Regions from separate parts of the Homo sapiens genome. Here regions 1 and 2 are each linked to region 3. Evidence: fine-mapped expression QTL. A gene starts in region 3. Each other region holds a variant in brackets. All regions are shown on one strand. Distances are from middle to middle.

The links. PIP is the estimated chance that this variant, and not a neighbour inherited with it, causes the effect.
Region 1: its variant is fine-mapped to the expression of NELFA in whole blood (INTERVAL, PIP above 0.99).
Region 2: its variant is fine-mapped to the expression of NELFA in subcutaneous fat (GTEx, PIP above 0.99).

Annotation. Positions count from the first base shown.
Region 1 is chr4:1,979,218-1,985,053 of GRCh38, reverse strand. It overlaps NSD2 (nuclear receptor binding SET domain protein 2), which reads right to left. Exons shown (of 22, transcript NM_001042424.3): 22 at 2,862-5,836. NELFA (negative elongation factor complex member A) reads left to right here. Exons shown (of 11, transcript NM_005663.5): 8 at 135-246; 9 at 941-1,206; 10 at 1,359-1,458; 11 at 1,551-2,331. The coding sequence ends at 1,735. Among named protein-coding and RNA genes, the nearest start is that of MIR943, 4.3 kb to the left of the region's middle. The variant T/ACAGT (reference allele first, on the strand shown) is at 2,267.
Region 2 is chr4:1,875,110-1,880,945 of GRCh38, reverse strand. The region is part of intron 1 of NSD2 (nuclear receptor binding SET domain protein 2); the gene reads right to left. Among named protein-coding and RNA genes, the nearest start is that of NSD2, 6.6 kb to the right of the region's middle. The variant C/T (reference allele first, on the strand shown) is at 2,438.
Region 3 is chr4:2,005,902-2,011,737 of GRCh38, reverse strand. NELFA (negative elongation factor complex member A) reads left to right here and starts at 2,764. Exons shown (of 11, transcript NM_005663.5): 1 at 2,764-2,988. The coding sequence starts at 2,779. LOC124900839 reads left to right here. Exons shown (of 4, transcript XM_047416543.1): 4 at 1,565-2,732. The coding sequence starts at 1,977. The coding sequence ends at 2,732. RefSeq lists a silencer at 2,014-2,393 and enhancers at 2,454-2,973, 2,581-3,081.

The DNA.
Region 1 (5,836 bases), 27 kb after region 3:
AGAGTGGCCCCCGCCTTCCTGCTCTAGCTCGGGGGGCCACAGCCTGTGGCAGTGGAGCTCCGGGTCGGGCCATGTGTTAGCACATGCCGGAAGCATGGCCTCTTCTGGAAGGAACCTTAAACTCTGTGTTCCAGAAACTTGGGTCCCTGAACAATGAGCCTGCGCTGCCCTCCACGAGCTACCTTCCCTCCACGCCCAGCGTGGTTCCCGCCTCCTCCTACATCCCCAGCTCCGAGACGCCCCCAGGTGAGTCTGCTGGCCCCAGCCTGGAACCAGCCAAGCTGCCTGCCAGGACATGACCTTGCCCACGGGCGCTGCCAGGGCTGCGGTTCTCACTCCTGCATCTCTGTTGTCCCCCTTCTGCCTCAGCCAGAATCTGCTGGGGGCAGATGCCCCGCTGTTCAGCTTGAGCTCCAAGACATAAACCAGCTGCTTTGCCCCACCCTGCCCGTCCTGGGCACAGACAGGCAGCGGCCCCAGGGGACACGGCAGGAAGGGGATTGGGTTCGAAAGGGTTTTCTGCCAGGTGACCCAGCTCTTGTTGCTGGGTAGGCGGGAGGGGAGCTGAGAGCCATCCCCTCCCAGACGGAGGGCACTGCCAGGCTCACAGCACCTCAGGCCAGGTCCTGGGCCCAAGGGGCTTGAGGATACAGCCTTCCTGTCTTCCCAGCAGTGCCTACGGTATGGGGACCTGCTGCAGGCCAGCAGCTGGCCAGAGTCCAGACATCTTATCTGCGAGTCTGGAAAGGCCTGAGACCACTGGCCTTGTTCCTCTGGCTGGGGCTTCTGGGGCCTGTGCCTTGGCTGGGGGCCACAGGGAGTTCTTGTCAGAGGGTAGCAGGACAGAGAAGGGGAGCTGAGCCTGTCACCTCCAGGAGCACTAGGGTTTGGGAACAGGGTGGGGGTCCAGCCCCCTCACCAGGCCCCGGTCTACTTGCAGCCCCATCTTCCCGGGAAGCCAGCCGCCCACCAGAGGAGCCCAGCGCCCCGAGCCCCACGTTGCCAGCGCAGTTCAAGCAGCGGGCGCCCATGTACAACAGCGGCCTGAGCCCTGCCACACCCACGCCTGCGGCGCCCACCTCGCCTCTGACACCCACCACACCTCCGGCTGTCGCCCCTACCACTCAGACACCCCCGGTTGCCATGGTGGCCCCGCAGACCCAGGCCCCTGCTCAGCAGCAGCCTAAGAAGAACCTGTCCCTCACGGTAGGTGTACACTGGTAGGGCCCACAGGCCACCAGGTAGGTGGTACGGCCCTGGCCACCTCCCCTAGCGTGGGGGTGCCACGGTGCCTGCAGGGGGATGCAGGAGGTGGTCCTGGCGGGGCCCTGGCACCCACACCCCTCTCCCCGCTGTAGAGAGAGCAGATGTTCGCTGCCCAGGAGATGTTCAAGACGGCCAACAAAGTCACGCGGCCCGAGAAGGCCCTCATCCTGGGCTTCATGGCCGGCTCCCGAGGTATGTTCATAAGGCAGGGCCTGGGGGTGCACCGGGCCGGGTTGGGGGCGGGTGCCCCCAGACACCCACCCAGCAGCTCCTGCTCTCTGCAGAGAACCCGTGCCAGGAGCAGGGGGACGTGATCCAGATCAAGCTGAGCGAGCACACGGAGGACCTGCCCAAGGCGGACGGCCAGGGTAGCACAACCATGCTGGTGGACACAGTGTTTGAGATGAACTATGCCACGGGCCAGTGGACGCGCTTCAAGAAGTACAAGCCCATGACCAATGTGTCCTAGAACCACCTGCCTCACAGCTGGCCGTCACTTGTGGGGGTCCACGGGACGATGGCTTTGCCAGCTTAAAGTAACCGGATGGCGGACACCTGGCCCCCGAGGTCCCCCGGCCGCCGCCCTGCTGCTGACCCAGCCTGTTTTAAGTTCTGGATGCATTTCTCTGGGGTATTTGGGGCTTATTTTTAAAATTTTAATATGGGTTCTTTTTTGTGTGATTTAAGACACTTTTTGGACTCAACGTTACATTTTTGAATGTAGTAAGTAAATTAACCAAAAAAGTTACAACTTCCTAATTTTAGTGACAGCTCTGCCTGTTAGACTCTTACTTTTTAAAATCTTTTCTATTTTCCCTCGCTGGGGCAGTGCCCTCCTACCCCCAGGGTTGAGGGGACCAAGGTGGCACGGTGGTACTGGGGGTGCGGCAGGGACACCCGACCACACCAGAGCGTGGGAGACGGTGGGCCTTGTCCCCTGCCTGTGCCTGCCTGGGAGTTTTGTATTCATCTTTTGTATAGTTGTGGACATTTAAGACAG[T/ACAGT]CTTTGGGTACCTATTTTCATTGTAAAACTATCTGAACCATTAAAGTCGAGCTTTTCTAAAGAAAGCCACCATAGCTGTGTTTGGGGCCAGCTTGTCCTCCCTGCTCCGGGGACCCAGTCCCTCCCTAGGCGGCCATCAGGACGGGGTGGGCCAGGGCTGGGGGCTTCCTAGGACACCCTGGCCCACAGGGTGGGGAACAGGTAGGATCAGCCCTCGGGGTACTCCCTTGACTTACTTGGCTGTGGGCCTGGGGACCACCCGGCTCAGCCGACTGCAGGGCTGGGGGACAGCAGTGCTTCCTTCTCTCTAGACCATTTCACCCTTAATGGGAATTTGGGAAGCAAATTATTTCTGAAAGAAGAAGAAAGCATTTTTCCAAAGTCAGTCAGTTATGCCTGCTATTTCCAGTATTTGTTGTTATACTTCCCAAGGTGGCACTGCCTCTCCCCAGCGGGTCAGGTCAAAGGCAAAATGACACAGTCAGGACAGGGAGCCCCACCCATCGGAGGCATCAGTGCCACACCCGATGCTTTGCAATTCAAAGTAACTGGAAAAAAAATCAAACAATCCCATATAAAATAAGTTAAGAAAAAAGCCTTTAAAATGTTTTTAATACAAAAATACTCATACACAATTTTCCAAACACAGCTTTCCATTTTAAATGCTATTTTCCCCCAACTGGCAAGTCTCAACTCTCTATTTCAGTATATCCCTCCCCCCAAAAAGTGAATTTCAAGTTTTTAAGTCTAACTATCAAACCTGGTGACAGCACCCAGTATTCCTAAAAGGAATCTGACCTTACATTGTATGAAGTTTAGACACCAATAGGCACATTTAAGTTTGTATTTAATTTCTGACGGGGCATTTCACACCTCAACAGGGTATGGTGAGGCTGTGACACCCCGTGGACACAGCATTTTACTCTACTGACTAACAAACAGTCATCAACTACACTCATAGGATCAAGATATTTGGCAACTGACAGTCATTTGCATTAACTTGAATTATAAAACAGGTTTAATTCTGGAAAATAAGGTAGTCCTGGAAGATGGGCACTGCACACGCCGGGGTTTAGATGTCAAGACAGACAAACACTGCGAAGGGGACCCAGCCAGCCATGGACGGGTGTCGCCGGAAGAAAGGCCGGCCTGAGGACGGACAGCTGGGTTCTCACTTCAGGTGCCTGAAGAGTTTCCCCCACAGGTGACCACATTTTAAGCTGCCCATTCGGACACATCCCCCTGTGGGCGCACACGGGTGGGTATGGGTTTAGGTGCAGATGCTGGTTTCGGATGCCAAGGAATCCTGAGGGATTGGGGCGGTTTTTGTGTTTTGCTTCACATTAATGATGGAGGATTGAAGCTGATGTTCAGGAAGTCACCACGTCCTCAGAACAAAGCTGGGCAGGGCCGAGAGCCAGCCACACCCACGGTCACAGCTGGGGGCGTGGTCAGCCCCAGTGGCGAGAAACCCTGCAAGCTCAGGGCCGCTACCCCAAAGCCTGGCTCCACTGAGTTATCAACGGGTATTGTAGAGACATTCAAAGTTAGTGTTACTTGCTCATTAGTTTAACAGTTTTTGGAAAGGGGGAGAAACATATTTAAAATGTTTGCATTATTTCCTTCAGAAAAATCATAAAATTTGGAAGTATTATCAAAGCGATTAAAAATCACAAGATTTCACTACTGTCCAACACAAAAATAAGTTAATATCTGCTCCCCAAAGTGCACTGCAAAGCCGATTCTGCTGTTTTGACGTAAGCATTGGTAGTCCCTTACCTGCCGGAAGGGATCTTTTGGGCAAGTGACAGCGGGGCCCTGGGGCCTTCGACTCTAAGGTGTGTGTGGGGACACTGCCCGGCCTGTCCCTAGAACAACCTTCCAAGTTAGGGCATCATAAGGAGCATAAATCTATGAGCCGATCCAGTATTTTCTTAGGACACTTTGGGAGAAGTTAGAGTCTGAACTGGAAAGCACTACTCCCACCCTGTCTTAACCGGCGAGTGCCCCTCAGAGGCCACGGCCGCGCGAGCAAGTCAGTGGCTACACAGCTCGTTTCCCCTGGGTCCTCTGTGTAGTTAACTTTGCTGGGGACCCTGATGGGAGAAGGGACAGCCACCAGCCAGTGAAACTTCCAGTCAGTGCTCAGGGAGGCGTGGGACCCTGCAGGGCCACACACCCCTGAACCCCACGCTTACAGGTCACAAAACCACGGAGTAGCCACTCTCAGGTCCAAAGACACTGCAGTTTTTACCAAGGCATAAAAGATGCCACAGAAAATTTAACAGGAGCCTCAGCAGCAGTTTTCAAGGGGAGTTCTGTAAACTTCTCTGCAAGATGGATGTGTCCCCCTTAGGTTATTTTAAGAAAAGGCCATAAAAAAGCACCTGCTGCTGAATGTTCTCTCCCTCCCTCCCAGACAAGCAGCCCCTCAGGACACGTGGGCAAAGGCACACATGGTGCCCCCTTCTCAGGGTGCTCCAGACTTCCCAGGGTCAAGGATCCCTCAAAAAAAGAACCAAGTCTTAAAACATATGTAGTACTCAGATAGATAGGTCTCACTCTGTAGAACTGGACCTTTTAAAAACTAAAGTGAAATCTCACAGGAGAGTGGGTGTCATACCTGGCCTAGACCAGTGCCCATAACACACGTACGAGGCACGCACACCTGCCAGGCAGGCCTCCACCCCCAGGACCGCACCTCTCAGTAGGTGCCCTGGCAGAGGGCACATGTGATCAGCAGAGACTGCATCTTCCATCACCAGACCCACAGAGTGCTGAGATGGAAGCCACTCTGGGTGGCAGGAGAGCTAGACTCCGTCTCTCTTTAGACCCACGTGCTGGGGTCCCCGGGGCCTGCAGCGCCCTACGGGGCTCCCTAAGTTGTCACTTCCTGTGCTCTAAGCAGACTGCGGTCTCACGCCCTGCAAAGTCACTCCTTTCGCCATGGAGCTCAGGGCCGCATCAGTAAACACACACTTCAGTCGGTGGTGATTTGTGAAATAGGTTTAGCAAAAATATATTGAGAATAAAAATCAGAAACTGGTAAAGAAAAGCCAAATGAAAAAAATATACAAAGTTATCCCCCAAATGTTGATAAGAACCTAGCGAGTTCAGAAGATAGGCCCAGGTGAGAAGTAGGCCCAACCCGGCCAGGCCTCGAAAGTGCTCCGCGTAAACTACACGTTGAAAGTGGACGTGTTATTGGCATTTCATTCAAATCCATGAGGAGAAAAAACTACGGGAGGAAATCTTACAACACCATTGCTGCCACCACCTGCAGGGCCAGCTTCTCACTAGGATGGAAAAGAAGCGTTTCTGAGGAACAATTCACATTAGTACAAAAAAATGATACAGCCATTTCCAAAGAGCAGAGTAATGATCACAATGGCAGTTTCGAGGAATCCAGGGTCAGTCCTCACACGGGCCTCACCCAGCCTCTCCCGAGTGGCGACGGCGCTGAGAGCCAGAAAGGGGGCAACGCGAAGACGAGTTTCTAGCGACCCTTGGGAAAAGCCTACGCTACACATTTCAGAGGAGATTAAAACATTCCATATGCCAATTAACTTT
Region 2 (5,836 bases), 130 kb after region 3:
AAAAATAATTCCTCAATAATAAATATAATCAGTGTTCCAAATTCTGTCTCAAATATCACAAATGATATTCAGCTGTTTCTCTAACAAACTGATCTGACACAAACACAGATAAGCCCTACAATAAAAATTAGTCCATGTTCCTCCAGTCTCTTGTCATCAGTCCCCTTCATTTTTCCCTGTTGATGAGTATGGCTTACTGGTCTTATAGTTTCCCACATTTCTCAGTGTTGCCAATGGCAACTCTGTAGTATTTCTCTTGCCCCTGTATTTCCTGTAGATTGGTTGTTAAACATAGGAGCTTGACTGGACTCAGGTTTGATTTTTTTTTTTTTTGGCAGGAGTATTTCACAGATTTTTCAAAGATATGACCTTTGCTCACTGTCCCTCCCCATTTCATCCCATTACAGGCCTATAAAACCCATGGGAACGAGGACATAGGTCTTGGCTCATCATTGGCACACAACTGATACTCAATGAATGAAGAAATATCAGGCAGAAGTACACTGCCACACTGACTGGCAGAAATATAATGGCTCAGTCTTCCATGCACATATAGACTGCTGTATGTTAGTTTTCCAAGAGGCAAAACAAAGTAAGTTCCCAGGGTACAGAATCAGAGGTCAGGCCCTGCAGGAGTTCTAACTTCATCACATACAGCCTTGTGACTTTGGATCAGTTACTTGACATCTTTGGGATTCAATTTCCTGCTGTGAGGATTCAATGAGAAGAAGATGCTTTGCTGCTGAAAGATTTGTGTAGCAAGGCTCTACAAAGATTACACCAACTCCGAATTTTGGAGGGGAAAGAACACAGAAGCCTCCTATTTCTAACACATATTTTAACCAAAAATCTAGAAATTCACATTTTTATGAAATAAAAATCATTAGGAAAACAGAATAATACCCAAAAACTATCTCTACTTGTTAACTAAGTGCTTTCCACATTTAGGCACTGAAGACATATCAAAGGGCCCTCACCTTGAAAAATTCACAACCTGGAGAAGAGAATGGGGCAAGAGCCTGTGCAACATGCTAACTGTCATAAGAGGGCCCAGTACTCACAAAGGCATGACAAACTTGGGAGAAAACACACACACACACACACACACACACACACACACAAGTGCCATGGGCCCAGGGTCTGCAACACCCGGTTCTGGTAGAAATAGGGAAAGGCTTCACAGAGATGAGAGGTGAGCCATAAAACCACCACAGCAACACAAAATTAGGCAACTCAGGAAGAAGCAACAGCACATGCAAAGATCCATGGGACAGGGCACGGCTCATCACAAGAGCTACAGGCAGCATGATGAGATCTCACAGCAACCACAAAGGACTGGCCAGCAAAGATGCTAGAAAGACAGGCAGGATCACTGGCCAGAGTCACAGAGGAAAGAAAAAATACACATTTTTTAAAAAATGTGTGTAGGCCAGGCGCGGTGGCTCAAGCCTGTAATCCCAGCATTTTGGGAGGCCGAGGCGGGCGGATCACAAGGTCAGGAGATTGAGACCATCCTGGCTAACACGGTGAAACCCCGTCTCTACTAAAAATACAAAAAAATTAGCCGGGCATGGTGGCGGGCGCCTGTAGTCCCAGCTACTTGGGAGGCTGAGGCAGGAGAATGGTGTGAACCCAGGAGGCGGAGCTTGCAGCGAGCTGAGATCACTCCACTGCACTCCAGCCTGGGTGACAGAGCGAGACTCCGTCTCAAAAAAATAAAATAAAATAAAATAAAATAATTTTAAAAAGTGTTGTATATATTTACATATATACACATAGATACATAAAGGAAAGACAGGCAGGAACCACATGCCATGCTCAAGATCTAGGGCTTTCTCTTCTAAGCAAACAGTGAAGCTCCAGAGACACATTTTTAGGCAGGTAGGTGAGATCAGAGCTTCCTTCTGGAAGGAAATAAGGTAGGTCAGAAGCGAGGCCCACTTTCCCTTCCCCTGGTTCACAGAGAGGTAACAGTACCAGCAACTACCCAATCTTTCCATCTGTAAGGATTGGACCAAGGACCCTCTCCTGCACCACTCTCACGCTATGGCCCAGTCCGGGCAATGCTGCCTCTGCTCATTCTCTCCCACCTGTCCACACCTTCCCAGCCTTGCCTCCTGTGCATTGGTTAAGTCACAGTTCTCCAGCCCTGCTAATGGTGCATAAGGCTCTTCTGTGACCTCTGCCACCAGCCCATGGCCCTCCACCTTTCCAACTCCACATCAAGGCAAAATGCTCACACCACTCCCCTTCATTCACACCATTTCTGGGACATATTATGCCCCCTAAGGCATACGAAGTACTGAGGGCTGTGTATGTATTCAAATAGTCACTGAATGCCTGACAGTCACTCAGGTACCATTCCAGGTGCTGAGGACATGACAGCAAGCCAAGCAAAAGGAAAAAAGTCCCTGCCTTCACAGATGACCCAATGCAG[C/T]CAGGAATTCACATGGAATGTTGGAGGTATGTGCTATGGAGAAAATCTAAGGCAGATGTGGAGTGCCAGATAGCAACAGAATAATTAAAAAAAGTTTTTTTGGCCAGGCATGGTGGCTTACGCCTGTAATCCGAACACTTTGGGAGGCCAAGACAGGCAGATCACTTGAGGTCAGGAGTTCGAGACCAGCCTGGCCAACATGGCCTAGTCTCTACTAAAAATACAAAAAAAAAAAAAAAAAAAAAAAAAAAAAAAAATATATATATATATATATATATATATCAGCCGGGCATGGTGGCACACACCCGTAATCCCAGCTACTTGGGAGGCTGAGGCAGGAGAACCGCTTGAACCCAGGAAGCAGAGGTTGTGGTGAGCCTAGATTGTGCCACTGCACTCCAGCCTGGGTGACAGAGTTAGACTCCGTCTCAGAAGTGTGTGTGTATATATATAATACTTTTTTTAAATTTTATTTTTCTTTTGGGACAGAGTCTTACTGCCACCCAGTCTGGAATGCAGTGGCATAATCGTGGTTCCCTGCAACCTCAAACTCCTGGGCTGGAGTGATCCTCTCGTCTTGGCTTCATAAAGCACCAGGATCACAGATAAACTGTAATAGTACCTGGTCACAACAGAGTACTTTAAATCAGTGGTCAGAGAAGGTGCCCGAGAGGGAGAAGCACAAAGACCTGAAGGAGGGTGAGGGGTAAGCCACACAGATACCTGGGGACAGCATTCCAGGTCAAAGAAGGAACAAGGGCACTAGTCGGAGGCAGCAGAGCTGCAGGGCTTCAGAGCAGGCAAGAGGCCCGTGTGGCTGGAACAGAATGAGAATGGGAGTGGGTGACGATGGAAAAGACAAGAGCCTCCCAAAACAGGCAGGAGTCAGGCACAGCATTCAGTGTGGGGCCCAAGCTGAGACCTGGCAGAAGGAAGGAAGAGGGAAAGCATGCCTATCCCCCAAACACATGGGGTAAGGGGGCACATGGGCAGAAGAAAGGAACAAAAATTGACCACACAAAGGCCCAGAGGAAAAACATGGCAGAAAGAGATGAGCTGAGTAACTGAGATGAGGGCAAAACAAGTAGTGCAGTGAGAGTCAGAAAGCCAGTGAGAGACTCGTCTTGAACCCCAATGGGCAGTGAGAGTCACCCCCTGAAGACTGGGGACACATAGGACATCTGTATTTTAGAAAGACAAGGCAGTGTGTAGAGAACTACCTGAAGACAGTAAAACCGGAGTCGGAAAAATGCTTTCTGATCATTAGCCTCCATAATATAGCAGCAAAAAATATATGAAAACCATCAAAATGTAAGAACATTGCTAACATGCACAGATCCTCTAAAAGCATAACAATTTTTTTTTTTTCCTTGAGACAGAATCTCGTCCTGTCGCCCAGGCTGGAGTGCAGTAGCATGATCTCGGCTCATTTCAACCTCTGCCTCCCAGGCTCAGGGAAGTCTCCTGCCTCAGCCTCCCGAGTAGCTGGGATTACAGGCACCCACCACCACGCCCAGCTAATTTTTTGTATTTTTAGTAGAGACGGGGTTTCACCACATTTCCCAGGCTGGTCTCGAACTCCTGACCTCAGGTGATCTGCCTGCCTTGGCCTCCCAAAGCACTGGGATTACAGGCGTGAGCCACCCACCGCACCAGCAAACGGCATAACAAATTTAATTCACATCATCAACTCTCTCAGTGCCAACTCAAGTCAACTTAAAAATTGAGGTTCCAATTCCTTCCAGAAAAAAAAAGCATTTTTTCTACACACCCACTAGGGTAGTCTCACTATTGGGGTTTTGTGTTTAGGTTTGTTTTTTGAGAGAGGGTTGTGCTATCTCCCAGGCTGGAGTGTGGTGGTATGATCACAGCTCACTGCAGCCTCAAAGTCCTGGACTCAGGTGACCTCCCACTTCAGCCACCCAAGTATCTGGGACTATAGGCACACACCACCAAGCCCAGCTAATTTTCAAAAATTTTTGTAGAGATGGGGTCTCCCTATGTTGCCCAAGCTGGTGTCAAACTCCTAGTCTCAAGTGATCCTCCCACCTCAGCCTCCCAAAGTGCTGCAATTACAGGCATGAGCAACTGTGCCTATCCACTACTGGAGTTTTTGAGCTGAGGCCATCACTCAGCTAACCAACACTGCAATTTCTATCCTTGTATATTTTGTTGAAACCACTAAGTATTACAGAAAGTAAAATGCTTTGAAAACTCATCTGGGGCCAGGTGGTTTTAGGAAAGCAGATACTAAAACAAAACTAATTTGAAATCTGTCTTGGTTTTTTTTTTTTGAGACAGGGGTCTTGCTCTGTCAACCAGGGTGGAGGGCAGTGGCGCGATCTCAGCTCACTGCAAGCTCCGCCTCCCAGGTTCACACCATTCTCCTGCCTCAGCCTCCCGAGTAGCTGGGACTACAGGCACTGCAACCATGCCCAGCTTATTTTTTATATTTTTAGTAGAGACAGGGTTTCACCATGTTAGCCAGGATGGTCTCAATCTCCTGACCTCATGATCCACCCGCCTCGGCCTCCCAAAGTGCTGGGATTACAAGCTTGAGCCACCGCACCCAGCCAAAATCTGTCTTGAATTCTTTTTTTTTGAGATGGAGTCTCGCTGTCTCCCAGGCTGGAGTGCAGTGGCGCAGTCTTGGCTCACTGCAAGCTCCGCCTCCTGGGTTAACGCCATTCTCCTGCCTCAGCCTCCCGAGTAGCTGGGACTACAGGCGTCCACCACCATGCCCAGCTAATTTTTTGTATTTTTTTTTTTTAGTAGAAACGGGGTTTCATCATGTTAGCCAGGATGGTCTCGACCTCCTGACCTCGTGATCCAACCGCCTCGGCCTCCCAAAGTGCTGGGATTACAGGCGTGAGCCACTGCACCCGGCCAATCTGTCTGGATTTTTTAACTAGCAAACCAAATGTAATCAAATCAATCAATTCTTTAAAAAGCTATACTGCAGGCCAGGCACAAGGCCGAAGTGGGAGGATCACCTGAGCCCAGGAGTTCATGACCAGCCTGGGCAACATGGTGAAATCCTGTCTGTATAAAACACAAAAATTAGCCAGGCATGGTGGCACATGCCTGTTGTCCCAGCTACTCAGGAGGCTGAGGTAGGAGGATCGATTGAGCCCAGGTGATCAAGGCTGCAATGAGCCGTGATCATATGACTCCACTCTAACCTGGGTAACACAGCAAAACCCTGTCCCAAAAAAAAAAAAAAAAAAAGTAAAAAGCTATACTGCAACTTGGCCGGGCACAGTGGTTCACACTTGTAATCCCAGTACTTTGGGAGGCCAAGGCAGGAGGATCACTTGAGGCCAGGAGTTACAGAGACCAGCCCAAACACTGCAAGACTGACTCCATAAAAAATTTTAAAATTAGCCAAGCATGGTGGCA
Region 3 (5,836 bases):
TAAAATAACCCAAATAACTTTAAAAAAAAAAAAGTCAGAGAATTAACACTACCTGATTTCAACACTTATTTTAGAAAGCTATAGTAACCAAGACAGTCTGGTATTGGCATAAAGATAGATGAGTAAGTCAGGATAGAAAAGTCCAGAAAGGATCGTCATTTCGACAAATAATATGGGAACAACTGGATACCATGTTTTAAAATGAAAAAAACTTTGGCTTTCTAATTTTGCAATCTGATAGGTGTAATGAGGCATCTTGTTATTTTAATTTGGGTTTGTCAGGTTGCTGATGAATTTAAGCATCTCTCCATGTGCTTCTCCGGTATTTGGGTTTCTCCTACGAATTGCTTTTTTTTTTTTTTTTTTTTTTGAGACAGAGTCTCGCTCTGTGGCCCACGCCTGAGTTCAGTGGTGTGATTTCCGCTCCCTCCAACCTCTGCCTCCTGGGTTCAAGCGATTCTCCTGCCTCAGCCTCCTGAGTAGCTGGGATGACAGGCATGAACCACCACGCCCCACTGTTTTCGTATTTTTAGTAGAAACGGGGTTTCACTATGATGGCCAGGCTGTGAATTGCCTATTCTTATCTTCTGCACATTTGTCTATTGTCGGTCTTTTTCTCGTCGATTTACAAGCATTCCTTTTTTCATTCTGAATATTAATCCATTGCTTTCTGATGCTGTAACTAAGTCCTCCTAGTGGTTTGTCTTCTTGGTTAAGCCAGATGTTAACTTGGATTTTTCCTGCATAAAACTGAAGACTCAAGATGCATCAAGCACTGTATACAGAAAAGTGCTGCGTATCCTACAGAAAGCTACAGACAGTTGGGGGTCAGAATCATTCGGATTGTTTCAAGTTTGGGGCTATTATAAATAAAGCTGCTATAAACGTTTGCACACAGGTTTCTGTGAACAAAAATTTTCATTTCAACCAACTAATGTTTACGGTTCAATCATGATTTCACAACTTGAAGTAACTTTCACTCTTCTCATACTAAATTTGATATGTCGTCCACTGTTAAACTATTTCTTACCCTCAGATTATAATTATTAAACTTTTTTTTTTTTTTTTGAGAGGGAGTTTTGCTCTTGTGGCCCAGGCTGGAGTGCAATGGCAAAATCTCGGCTCACCGCAGACTCCGCCTCCCGGGTTCAAGCCATTCTCCTGCCTCAGCCTCCCGAGTAGCTGGGCTTACAGGCAAGCCATGCGCCACCAAGCCCGGCTAGTTTTGTATTTTTAGTAGAGACGAGGTTTCTCCATGCTGGCCAGGCTGGTCTCGAACTCCCGACCTCAGGTGATCCGCCCGCCTTGGCCTCCCAAAGTGCTGGGATTACAGGCGTGAGCCACCGTGACCGGCCTAATCATTAAACTTCTTTCAGCACTAGCCCCACTGATGTCACAACTTCACCCATTAGTCAATAACTTGTCTTTGCTGAATTCGACACTTTTGAATCATTTAAAAAATATTCTCTTAAATTTTATGTGCTATTTGCAATGTAACGGTTGTCGACATGACAGTTTTAAGTTTAATCTTTATCATCAACATTTTCTCTATCACTTTCTTCAGTTTAAGCAATCAACAAAACCACCGCTCCAGCACTGATTTGTAGCATTTGCGGGTTTCCCCCGTGTGACTTCCGCAGGACTGCCAAGTTCAAGCCGCCAGGGCCAGGGCACTGCTAGCAGCTGGGCTGAGCCCTGTTCTCCCGGCGTTCCCACCGCCCAGTGGCAATAGCTGTGAACGGCGGCAGGAGCATGGCAGTGGAACAATAAGGAAAAGATCTTTTAAAAAAAAGATATAATACAGAAGCCAAGCAAGGCGGCCCCGACCTGTAACCCCAGCACTCTGGGAGGCAGAGGCGGGCGGGCGGATCGCTTGAGCCCAGGAGTTTGAGACCAGCCTGGCCAACATAGGAAGGCCTCGTCAAAAAGACAAAAGGGTAAAACGAATTTAATAAAATGAAGTTTAACTTTTACTCATGTTTGTATCTAATGACAAGCTTTTAAAACTGAAAAGTTCACTACTGGCTCCTGCCTGGCGGCTCCAGCCCGACTGGGGGCCGGGGCCTCCCTGCACTGTGGGGTCACGAGTGCCCCTGGACAGCTCCCGAGCGCCCTCCGACCCGCATGCTCAGCGCAGCCCCGTCGGCGGCGCGCCACGGGCAGAGCGGGCTCAGCGGGGGACGGAAGCTCAGCGCTGCGACCGGGATCCCGCAGGCTCGCTCCGCAGGGCCGCGGCTCCTCTCCGTGCAGGTGCTGGGCCCGCGGGGGCGGGGCGTCCACACGGTCCGCGCCGAGACCCAAGCGGGGAAAAAGCGAAGAGCGGACAGCGGGGCAGGTGCCACAGGGAGCCTCCGCCCCACCGCGCGAGCAGCAAGTCTGCGGCGCTTGACACCTGCACTGCGAATGCCAGGCCGCAGCCCGGGCTCCCAAGACGCGAATACGCGCGCCTGCTCGTGACGTCATTTTTTGCGGTCTTCCCGAGAGCCAGCAGAGGGCGCCGCCATGATGTTTTACGGAAGCCGATAGTCCTTGCTCAGCGGCACCCCGTCCTTCCGGCTCTCGGCTTTGCCACAAAGCTTCCCGAAGACGCGGCCGCTACCCGGAGACGCGGTCGCCACCCAGAAGCGCTCTCCCGGGAAGCCCCGCTCGTGGGACCGCGCCACCTGCGCCGCCTCTGCGGCCCGCAGCCCGACGGGCGCCGCCATGTTGGGGTCCTAGCGAGGGACGCGTAGGTGTCTTCATAAGATGCCGGGGCAGCGGCGCGCGCTTTCCCCCAAGATGGCGTCCATGCGGGAGAGCGACACGGGCCTGTGGCTGCACAACAAGCTGGGGGCCACGGACGAGCTGTGGGCGCCGCCCAGCATCGCGTCCCTGCTCACGGCCGCGGTCATCGACAACATCCGTCTCTGCTTCCATGGCCTCTCGTCGGCAGTGAAGCTCAAGTTGCTACTCGGGACGCTGCACCTCCCGCGCCGCACGGTGGACGAGGTAAGGCAGGCGTGGCGCCCCGCGGCCCCCAGATTCCCAACCTTCCCACCTCCGACCCGCACACCCAACTCCGGACCCTCCTCGCTCCCTCCCCCAACCTTCCCATCCCCCTTCAGACTGTTAACCCCCCCGGCCCGCCCTCACGCCCCCTCCTCGCTCCTCCGAATACCTCCCTCCAGTCCTCACCTCCCCCTGGGTCCTCATCCCCCGCCTCGATCCTCATCTCCCACCTCGGTTCTCATCCCCACCGTGGGTCTTCAGGACCCCCCGCCCCTCCTCGCCCCCTGGGAATCCCCCACTAGGGTCCTCACCTCCCTACTTTTCGTCCTCACCCCTACCCAAGTTTTCACCTCCCCTGGGATCCTCAATCTCCTCCCCGCCGGGCCCCGGGTTCTCGCTACGACCCCCAGGTCCTCACTCCCCTCCCTGGGCCCCCGGGTACTCATCCCCACCCGCCCCCGCCTCCCCCGCCTTCGGTCCTCACCACCCTAATCCCCCACCGTGCCGAAGCGACCGACTCTTGGAGCGGGGGTGCGCCGGCCCCAGCGGGGTCTCCCATCGGGGTTTCCCGTCGGGGACGCAGCCCTGGTGACCTGGGCGAGGGCGGGGATCCCGAGAGAAACCCCCGCGTGAGGAAGGGGCGGCCTGGGCTCGGTAGCTCCAGTGTCCGCTGACTGGATTTTCTTGTTCTCACCTCGCAAAGACCCCGGCCGTCCGGAGCGCTCTGTGTCCGTTTTACTCTTTTCTACACGCCGTTTTGCGTCATTCCAATAAGTGGGTGTGTGAGGTTTGTTTTCTTTTTTCCTAAACTTTATATTGTATCGCTTTCCGTGCGAAATAAACCGAGTAGTTTTGCAGACTATTGAAGCCCCATGGTTGTTTAAACGTTCCTGGCTACTGATGTATTATTAGCTATTATAGGTTGTAATTGCTTTTGATTGAGATATGACATGTATGGAAAAGTGCATTTTTGTTCAGTTTAACGAATAATAATAGCATCGCGAGCCACTCCTGTGATCCTTACACAGGTGGAGAAGTAGAACCATGCCTGTTCCTTGGAAGCCTCCCACTGGTAATCACGGCCTTCTTCCTTTCCCCTTCCTCATTTTGGAAAGGTAATCATTTCTGTGCCATCTCCCCGGTGTGAGCAATTATTTATGCACCCCTAAATGGCACAGCTTGGTTGCCGGATTTGGAGTTAGTGTGATGGTATCATAGTGTATTTTGTGTGTGGCGTGCATGTGTCTTTTTGGTCGACGCCGTGACAGTTTCATCCACGTTGCAGCTGACTGCAGTTTAATTTTCACTGCTGCGTGGTATTCCTGTCTGTGAGCACGAGGCACTTTATCCATTCTGCCACAGTGACACGCTTAGCTTTTGTGCTCTTGTAAATCATCCCGTTACTACATTACGGTCATATGTTCAGGTGTTTGGAATCTTGGATTTCTCTAGGGTATAACATCTAGGAGTGGAATTGTGAGGATCATAGGATCATGCCAAATTATTTTTCAGAGTGTTTTGTTTTTGTGTTTGTGTTTTGTTTGAGACAGGGTCTGGCGCTGTCAACCAGGCTGGAGTGCAGTGGCACCATCGTGACTCACTGCAGCCTTGACCTCCTCACCTCAGATCTTCCCATCTCAGCCTCCTGAGTAGCTGGGACTACAGGGTTTCACCATGCTGCCCAGGCTGGTCTTGAACTCCTGACCTCAAGCAATCTGCTTGCCTCAGCCTCCTGAAGGGCTGGGATTACAGGTGTGAGCCATGGCACTCGGCCTGCTGTTTGGTTTTCTGCTTTGAGAATTGTATATTCAAATCTGCTTTTAAATTCTCTTTTTTCCCATTGTTTTGTAAGAGTGTCTTTTTTATTATTTATTATAAATGCTAGATATCAGTCCTTTTTCAGTTACAAATATCTCCCAGTTGTCCTTTGACTTTGACTTAGCTTCCTGGAATCCTTTTTTTTTTTTTTTTTTTTTTTTTTGAGACAGCGTCTCACTCTGTCACCCAGGCTAGAGTCTAGTGGTATAATCATAGCTCACTTTAACCTTGAACTCCTGGGCTTAAGCAGTCCTCCCTCCTAAACCTCTGTAGTAGCTGGGACTGATGCGCTGCCACCACGCCTGGCTAATTTTTGTGCATGTGTATGGAGATGGGGGTCTTACTGTATTGCCCAGGCTGGTCTTGAACTCCTAGCCTCAAGTGATCCTCCTGCCTTGGCCTCCCATAGTGTTGGGATTACAGGTGTGATCTGTGCGCCCAGCCCTTTTCCTGGAATCATGGATGAATAGAAGCTCCTAGTTTTAACATAGATGGTGTATTCATCCGCCCACTATCATTGGTGCCTATTGTGTCTCCCCGAGGGACATGCCCGGAACACTCCCTGGGTTATCTTGGCGTAGCTGTACAGTTTTACCTTTCGCACTTGAATCTTCAGTCTGCGTGGAATTGATGATTGTGTGAAGCAGGGAGTCTAATTTTCCACATGGATGTGCAATTAGTCCAGCACCCAACGTTGATTGAAATGACTGTCCTTTTCCATTGATCTGCACTGCAGCTTCTGCTGTGGATGTGTTTCTGGGCTGTGCTCTGTTCTTTTGGTCATTTACATATCGATGTGCTAATAACCCACTAAGTCGGTTCTTGTCACTTTATTTATAAGCCTTGTTAGCGGACGGAGCAAACCCTCCCACTGTATCTTTCTCCGGGATCATCTATGGCTATTCTTGTCCCTTCACACTTCCACATGTATCTTATATACTTACTTCTTAAACACGTAGAGCCTGCCTGCTGGGATTTTAAGGCTGAGCTGAACTTGCAGTTCATTCTGGGGTGCTGTCCTCTTTATATT